Regions from separate parts of the Homo sapiens genome. Here region 1 is linked to region 2. Evidence: fine-mapped expression QTL. A gene starts in region 2. The other region holds a variant in brackets. All regions are shown on one strand. Distances are between the middles of the regions.

What was found. PIP is the estimated chance that this variant, and not a neighbour inherited with it, causes the effect.
Region 1: its variant is fine-mapped to the expression of PTPRJ in monocytes after LPS (Quach 2016, PIP 0.95).

The regions. Positions count from the first base shown.
Region 1 is chr11:48,007,231-48,011,478 of GRCh38, reverse strand. The region is part of intron 1 of PTPRJ (protein tyrosine phosphatase receptor type J); the gene reads right to left. Among named protein-coding and RNA genes, the nearest start is that of PTPRJ, 29 kb to the right of the region's middle. The variant T/C (reference allele first, on the strand shown) is at 2,391.
Region 2 is chr11:47,978,265-47,982,512 of GRCh38, reverse strand. It overlaps PTPRJ (protein tyrosine phosphatase receptor type J), which reads right to left and starts at 1,954. Exons shown (of 25, transcript NM_002843.4): 1 at 1,505-1,954. The coding sequence starts at 1,600. RefSeq lists silencers at 924-1,353, 1,454-2,043.

The DNA of each region.
Region 1 (4,248 bases), 29 kb before region 2:
TTTAATGAGAATAAGGCAAGAGAAAACACTTGGGACACTCTGAGCCCCTGATCGGCATTACTTTCTTAAGTGACTCCACTCAAGAGTACCCGTCTAGTAAGTGGTAAGTCCAGAAACAGAACCCAGGCCACCTCCTGCCTCCAAGTCCAGCTCCTATCTTACCATCAGCACAACACAAGAGGCCTTGTGCACATACATTATTGCTGCACAGGCTTGATCTGGATGGATCTCTCTTACAAACAGGCATACACAGCCCCAAGCTATGAAAGGTAGCAAAACTAATCAAGTCTTATAGATTAAATGTCTTACAAAGCATGGTGACTCCCGCATGACAATGAAAGCTGAAAGGCAGATTGTGCCAATGTTATCTCTGCCTTTGCCCAGGGGCCCTGGTCCCTGAATAGGCAGTAGGGACCACCACTGACCTCTGTCCTGCCCACCTCCTAGAACAGTGCACCCACCCTGCTCACCAAACCCCACTCTTTATTTAAAGACCCAACTTGCTGGGAGGGACAGTGCACCTGTAATCCCAGCTACTCAATTGGCTGAAGCGGAAGGATGACTTGGGCTCAGGAATTCAAGTCCAGCCTGAGCCACACAGAAAAACCCTATCTCCAAAATAATAATAATAATAATAATAATAGGCCAGGCATGGTGGCTCACACCTATATTTCCAGCACTTTAGGAGGCCAAGGCAGGTGGATCACCTGAGGTCAGGAGTTCGAGACCAGCCTGGCCAACATGATGAAACCTCATCTCTACTAAAAATACAAAAATTACCTGGGCGTGGTGGCATGCCTGTAATCCCAGCTACTCAAGAAGCTAAGACAGGAGAATCACTTGAACCCAGGAGGCGGAGGTTGCAGTGCGCCAAGATCACGCCACTGCACTCCCAGACTGGGTGACAGAGTGAGACTCCGTCTCAAAAAATAATAATAATAATAAAAGCCTAACTCAAGTCCCATGTCTTCAATTCATTCAACAAATTACTGAGCACCTAATGGGCCGCGCAGTGGTTCACCCTGTAATCCCAGCACTTTGGGAGGCTGAGACGGGCGGATCACTTGAGGTCAGGAGTTTGAGACCAGCCTGGCCAACATGGCGAAACCCTATCTCTACTAAAAATATAAAAAATAAGCCGGGCGTGGTGGCACCCGCCTGTAATCCCAGCTACTCAGGAGGCTGAGGCAGGAGGACTGCTTGAAGCTGGGAGTGGGAGGTTGCAGTGAGCCGTGATAACGCCACTCTACTCCAGCCTGGGCGACAGAGCTAGACTCTGTCTCAAAAAAAATAAATAAATAAATAAATTACTGAGCACCTACTGGGTTACCAGGCCCTGTGGCACGATGTCCTTGGAGAACCCCGTCTATTTAGGGAGACAGAGGTACAAGAGTTACTCCATCACATGCAAGGACCTAGTGGCAAGAAAGCGTGTGGCACACTGGAGAGACTGTAAGAAATTTGGGATGGGGAGTCCCCAGAGTATGTATGTCCAGAAACGCTGCACTACATGCCAACCCAAATAACTCAACAGTATCCAACAGGCATGGGGGGCCTTGATGGCTTAGAGCAGTAGATAACTTGTTTGGTCTGATCAGAGCCACGGCACATGAAGCCCTTTCTCTGAAAGCCCAGATAGCTCATTTAATTCTCACAACAACCCAAAGAGATAAGGTACTAGTCCCACTTAACAGCTGAGAAGCCTGAACTGGGAAAGATCCAGTGACTTGCCCAGGGGCACATAGCAGTTACGTGGCAGAGCCCAGACTTGGCCCAGGTCTGCCTAAGTTGCTTTTTAAGCACCACATTATAGTGCACCACATATCCATATAAAGCACGGCTTCAAGTCTAACGTTTGTTTCTTTAACCAATATTTTTTTTTTGAGACAGAGTCTCGCTCTATTGCCCAGGCTGGAGTGCAGTGGCACAATCTCGGCTCGCTACACCCTCCGCCTCCCAGGTTCAAGTGATCCTTCTGCCTCAGACCCCTGAGTAGCTGGGATTACAGGCATGAGCCACCATACCCAGCTAGTTTTTGTATTTTTAGTAGAGATGGGGTCTCGCCATACTGGCCAGGATGGTCTCGAACTCCTGACCTCCAACGACCCACCTGCCTCGGCCTCCCAAAGTGCTAGGATTACAGTCGTGAGCCACTGCGCCCAGCCTGTTTGACCAAATTAGGTTTATACTTTACTTTGAAGCTCGCGTCTTTAAATTTCTTATAGCATAAACATCCTGCCATATCATGGAACATTTTTTCAGTGCGTTGGTAATGACTGCATAGTAGTCCACAATTTCAGCAATCCTCCACCGCTCAATACTTAGGTTGTTTCCAACACATGGCTTCTTGTTTTTCTTTAACAGACCATCCCACACACGGTTCATCCCAT[T/C]GTGTCCTCACAGGGGGAAACCCTGCAACCCTGATACCACTCATTGTGTGACTTATCTTATACAAGGATGAGTAAGACAATGACTTTCAACGAAATATCAGCAAGTTTTATTATAGAAGGAACTACTTTCCTTTCCCAACCCACCCCCCAGTTTTGCTAACAATAATTCATTTGTTTACTGGGTTGATTTCTCTATTAGAAGCAAATGCAATAAACCGGGGTGTGGCCAGGCATGGTGGCTCACGACTGTAATCCTAGCACTTTGGGAAGCTGAGGTGGGTGGATCACCTGAGATCAGGAGTTCTAGATCAGCCTGGCCAACATGGTGAAACCCCACCTCTATGAAAAATACAAAAATTAGCCGGGCGTGGTGGCGCATGCCTGTAATCTCAGCTACTTGGGAGACTGAGGCAGGAGAATCGCTTGAACCTGGGAGGCGGAGGTTGCAGTGAGCCAAGACCACACCATTGCACTCCAGCCTGGGCAACAAGAGCAAAACTTCAACTCAAAAAAATAAAAAATAAATAAATAGGCCAGGCATGGTGGCTCACGCCTGTAATCCCAGCACTTTGGGAGGCCGAGGCAGTTGGATCACGAGGTCAGAAGTTCAAGACCAGCCTGGCCAAGATGGTGAAACCCCGTCTCTACTAAAAATACAAAAATTAGCTGGGCGTGGTGGCACATGCCTGTAATCCCTGCTACTCGGGAGGATGAGGCAGAGAATTGCTTAAACCCAGGAGGCGGAGGTTGCAGTGAGCCAAGATCACGCCACTGCACTCCAGCCTGGGCCACAGAGCGAGACTCCGTCTCAAAAAATAAATAAATAAATAAATTGTGGTGAAAGGTGTGGAACATCTGAAGCAGGCATGGGCTCAGCCTAAGGGTCCACGCATGGGCTCAGCCTCCCCTCAAAACAGATTCCAGAGTTCAGAAGACACCTTCAACTCTTCCCCAGAAGTAACAGATTTCCCTCCAGCAGATCACCTGGCACGTGTCAGAACTCAACCCTAAAAGCCCAATTCAGCCTCCATTAAAAACAGGTCAAAAATAGATACGTTACTGAATACCCTGTGTGCTCACCACTGTATCTTTAGTGTCGGGAAGAAGGGGGCAGAAAGAACCAGGAACTGGAGCCAGGAACCTGGGCTCACAGTGATATTAGCTGTGTGGTCTTGGGCAAGTCACTTCCCCTCTCTGCGCCTTGGTTTCAACATCTCTAAAGTAAACGGTTTGCATTAGATGACCCTCAATGACCCTTCCTGCTCTGGGCCTGCCCAGTTTTATAAGTGACCAGTGACTGTACATCATGATGTCAACTCACAAGTACAGCTCCTACCAGCTTGCTGCTGCCTGGAGGGAAGACAGCAGGAACGCACAGAAGAAAAAGGCCTCAGCCGGGTGCAGTGGCTCACACCTGTAATCCCAGCATTCTGGGAGGCGGGCAGATCACTTGAGGTCTGGAGTTCAAGATCACCCTGGCCAGCATGGCAAAACCCCATCTCTGCTAAAAATAGAAAAATTAGCCAGGTGTGGTGGCACATGCTTGTAATCCCAGCTACTCAGGAGGCTGAGGCACAAGAATCGCTTGAACCTGGGAGACGGAGGTTGCACCAAGATTGTGCCACTGCACTACAGTCTGGGTGACACAGTGAGGAAAAAAAAAAGAAAAGAAAAAGGCCTGGCCCCGTGTGGTGGCTCATGCCTGTAATCCCAGCACTTTGGGAGGCCGAGGTGGGCGGATCACGACGTCAGGAGATCGAGACCAACCTGGCTAACATGGTGAAAACCCATCTCTACTAAAAAAAAAAAAAATACAAAAAATTAGCCGGGCGTGGTGGCAGGCACCTGTAGTCCCAGC
Region 2 (4,248 bases):
CCTGAATTTCCTTACATGGACAGGGAGAAGACAGCCCCCACAGGCACTGTACCTTAATAATGAGAATCCCATGTGGAAACCCTTAATATTTACAAAGTTCTTTTAGACATTGGCCAGTGGAAGCCCCTCAAACAATTCCATTGGGCAGAGGGTGCTATACTCATTCTACAGATGCGGTTAACTGAGGGTAGAGAAGCCTGAAGAGCAAGTCCAGCCCTGTGGCCCGGCCCTGGAGCCAGTCTCCTGACATCTACTCCCAGGTTCTCTGCAGGAGGTCACATTGCCTTCTGGCCCCCAGGAGAGCCTGTGCAGAACCTGCTGGGGAAACTGCGAGGAGAGACCCTTGGGTGCCGAGGGTCACGCAGCCCCCAGGCCCCAGCCCCCTTCTCCTACAGCCTGCTAGGCGGCATTGCTGCCCCAGGGTGATGCTTCTGCTCTCTCCTGTATTCGCGCTGGAGAAGTTTTCCCTGAAACCAGGTTCCATCCCCAGCCAATAACTCATTTCCTCAGAGATGGTGTCTGTATAAAACAAGCAAGATGGTCATTTGCAGAAACGCACAGCAAGGCAGCCCTAGACCGCTTCCCCTGCGGGTTCAAACCCCAACAGGCTCCAGAGGCTAAGAGGACGTGCCCGCTGGCTCAGCTCCCATGGCACGGGCTGGGTGCTCCGCTATTTCACTTCTCTCCCTCAGTTCCCCATCTGTGAAATGGGAATGCCCCTTCAGCTGCTCTGCCTCAGCCCCTATGGAAATGCCAGGAAGGGGAAAGGTCGGTCACCAAAACGCCAGGGACAGCATTATCTGAAAAGTGAAGCCAGAAAAGAGGGTGAGGGTGGGGTGGGGAGGGGGAGCCAGCGCCCACAAAGCACGAATTAAACACCCATGAAATCAAGCACGACGCCAAGAGGGCCGGCTGCCTTGAGAAAAGCCAGCGTGCGGCCACCTTTTCCCCGGCCTGGGAACTTTCCCCAGGAACAGGGCCCTCGGCCCGGAGTCCCGCGCCTCGCCCAGGGCCCCACTGCCCAGCGCCTGGCCCTGCCCTGTCGCCCCCGCCGCCCCTCGGGCCCCTGCAGGCCGGGTCGGAGGTCTGTCGGCAAAGGCTCAGCCAGGCCGCCCGGCTCTGCGTCCCCAGACCTCCGCAAACACGCCCCCTCCGGCCGCCTCCGGCTAGGAAGCCGGGCCCGTGCCCGCCAGATGTGCCCAGCGCCGGGAAGAGCCGGGCCAGGGACGGCCTGGAGCCCGCGCGGAGGCTTTCCCCGGGAGGCTCGGGCACCGCGGCACCCGGATCCCGCCTCTCTCCCCCGATCCTGGGCAGCCGGAAAAGGGATCGATCGCCGGCGTGCGAGGCCGGCCGGGGTCCCCGCAAGTCGCCTTCCGGGGATCCGGGGATCCGGACCCCCGCCCCCTTCCCCGGAACCCCCCGGGGGGGTACGCTCGGGCAGGTGCAGTCAATGCCAGTCCCGCCCCAGCCTCCTGCCCCCCGCCCGAGCCCACCCGGCGCTTACCTGGCCCAGGCGCAGCAGCAGCAGCAGCAGCGGCAGCGCCCAGCGCAGCCCGGGCGAGCGCGGAGGCAGCCGCGCCTCCCGCGCCGCCGGCTTCATGCCCCGCGCGCCCTGGAACGTGCCCCGGACGCGCGAATCGGGCCCCGCCGTGCGCCCGAGCCCGGGCACCGTCGTCGCCGCCTCCTGCCGTCTCCTTCGCCTCCTCCTCCGCCAGCCGGTCCGCCTCGTCCCCGCTCCGCCCGCCCCGGGCTTCCCCGGAGACATGGCAGCGGCGGCGGCGGCCGCGGCCACACGCCGGAGCCTAGCGCGGCTGCCGCGGGGGGGCCGCGTCCCTGAGCGCGCAGGGGCTTCGCGGGGCGGAGCGAGCGGCGCCCACCCCCAGCGCGCGGCTACCCGGTCCCGGCTCCCGCGGCTGCTCCCGCTGCCTCCTCCGCGCGTCATGCGGCTGGGGCTGCTGCAGGGAGCCGCGGCGAGCGCTCGGCCCCCTCCCTTCCCCTCCCCCTCTGAATATTCATCGCTTCCTCCCGCCCCGGCCGGCCCGGCGGCTGCGGAGCTCCGCAGCCCCTCGCCGCCGCCCGCCGCTGCCCCCGCCCCCTCCGAGCCGGCCGCGGATCCCCTCCCGCGGGCAGAGGAAGCGCTCCCGCCTCGCCCGCCCCTCCGCCCAGCCCTCCCACATTCCTGGGACTTGGAGCCCGGGACCAGGCTCCGTGGCTCTAGCGCCTCGAGCCGGCACCCCTCAGGACGGGCTCCCCAGCCTCACACCAGGTCCACGGCGCCGGGTTCGGGTGGGCAGAGGTTGACCGAGACCCCTACTGAGAGCGCAGCCAAGCCTGATTGTAGACAGCAACCCGGCGAAGGCGCGTTTGACCTGGCCCTGGGTGGGCTTGGGGGTGCGTGAACCCCGAAATTGTAGAAGGCACGCTGTACATTGTGTTCTGTCCCCCAGCCCCCGAGCGCCGGCCAGGGAGGCAGAGAGCCCAGTACAAGCCAGTCCAGGGATTAGAACCCCAGCTGTGGCATATGGTGGACGGGGCTCTGCTGGTAGTACCAGCCCTGTGAACTCTGGAGACGCATTTCTCCTCTCTGGCCGACCCCACCCACCCTCCTCTCCTCCCGTGTGAAATAAAGATCGTACTAGGACGTGTGGAGAGAGAGGTCCACTGCATTCGCGATTAAACGAGACAGTAGTTAGTAAAGTCCTAAACACCTAGCCTGACACATCGTGGGACTCCACATACATTAGCTCTTCTGGAAGCTTTCATCACGTTGTTAAAGAGGTCAATGAACTGACAGGAGTTAAAGATCACAGCAGATATTACTCCTGTGCCCATGCACAGAGGAAGACACTAGGATCAGGGAGGCTATGCCACTTGCCCAGGAGAAGCCGCAAGAGAAAGGGCCAAACCAGAGAGTGCTAAGGAGGAAGAGGTTAATTCCAACCAGGAGAGAGGTGACACCTGAGCTGGGCTTTGAAGGATGTGTTGAGTTTCACCAGGCCAGTAGAGGGGAGAAGTGTCTCAGGAGGTGGGGCCAACTTGGCAGAAACGAGGCAGCAGATGCTTCGAGCTTGGCCTTCGGAGAAACAGGAATGGGAGGCTGGGGGATTCATACTGGGGGAGACTTCAAAGGCCAGGATAATGAGTCTAGGCTGGATTCTGTGTGCAGCAAGATGCAGACCACGAGGTGTCCAACACTACCTCCAGACACCCGTTGGGCCTCAGGTTACCATCTACAAGATGGGAATACACATTCACTTACAGGGTCTAAGTGGTTCCCACCAGACAACACACCCAGACAAGCACTGAGGATAAAGAAACTTTGCCAGGCCGCACGATGGCTCACGCCTGTAATCCCAGCACTTCCGGAGGCCAAGGTGACTAGATCACTTAAGCTCAAGAGTTCGAAACCAGCCTGGGCAACGGGGTGAAACCCAGTTTCTACAAAAATTAGCCGGGTGTGGTGGCACACAGCTGTAGACTAAGCTACCTGGGAGGCCGATACAAGGATGGCTTGAACCTAGGCTGCAGTAAACCAAGATGGCAACACTGCACTCCAACCTGGGGAATAACGTGAAAACCTGTCTCAAAAAAAAAAAAAAAAAAAAGAAGAGGCTGGGCGTGGTGGCTCACACCACACCTGTAACCCCAGCACTTCAGGAGGCCGGGGCAGGCAGATCACTTGAGGTCAGGAGTGCGAGACCAGCTTGGCCAACATGGTGAAAACCCATCTCTACTAAAAATACAAAAGTTAGCTGGGCGTGATGGCGTGCCTGTAATCTCAGCTACTCCAGAGGCTGAGGGCAGGAGAATCGCTTGAACCCGGGAGACGGAGGTTGCAGTGAGCCAAGATTGCACCACTGCACTCCAGCCTGGGTGACAGAGTGAGACTCCATCTCAAAAAAAAGAAAAGAAAAAGAAAAAAGAAACCTTACCTATGGACTTACACACCTTGCCACCCTTCATTTAAACACTATGTAATTATCATAATTCACAAGGATTTTTGTTCCTCTGTGCCTCCTCCCCTCTTGAGGCAGAGACATAAAAGGTGTTCATGTCCATGATACCCAGAGGGAAGGAAAGCTTGATTTAAGATGCTACCAGGGGGCTGGGCACAGTGGCTCACGCCTATAATCCCAGCACTTTGGGAGGCTAAGGTGGGCGGATCACCTGAGGTCGGGAGTTCAAGACCACCTGACCAACATGGAAAAACCCTGTCTCTACTAAAAATACAAAATGAGCTGGGTGTAG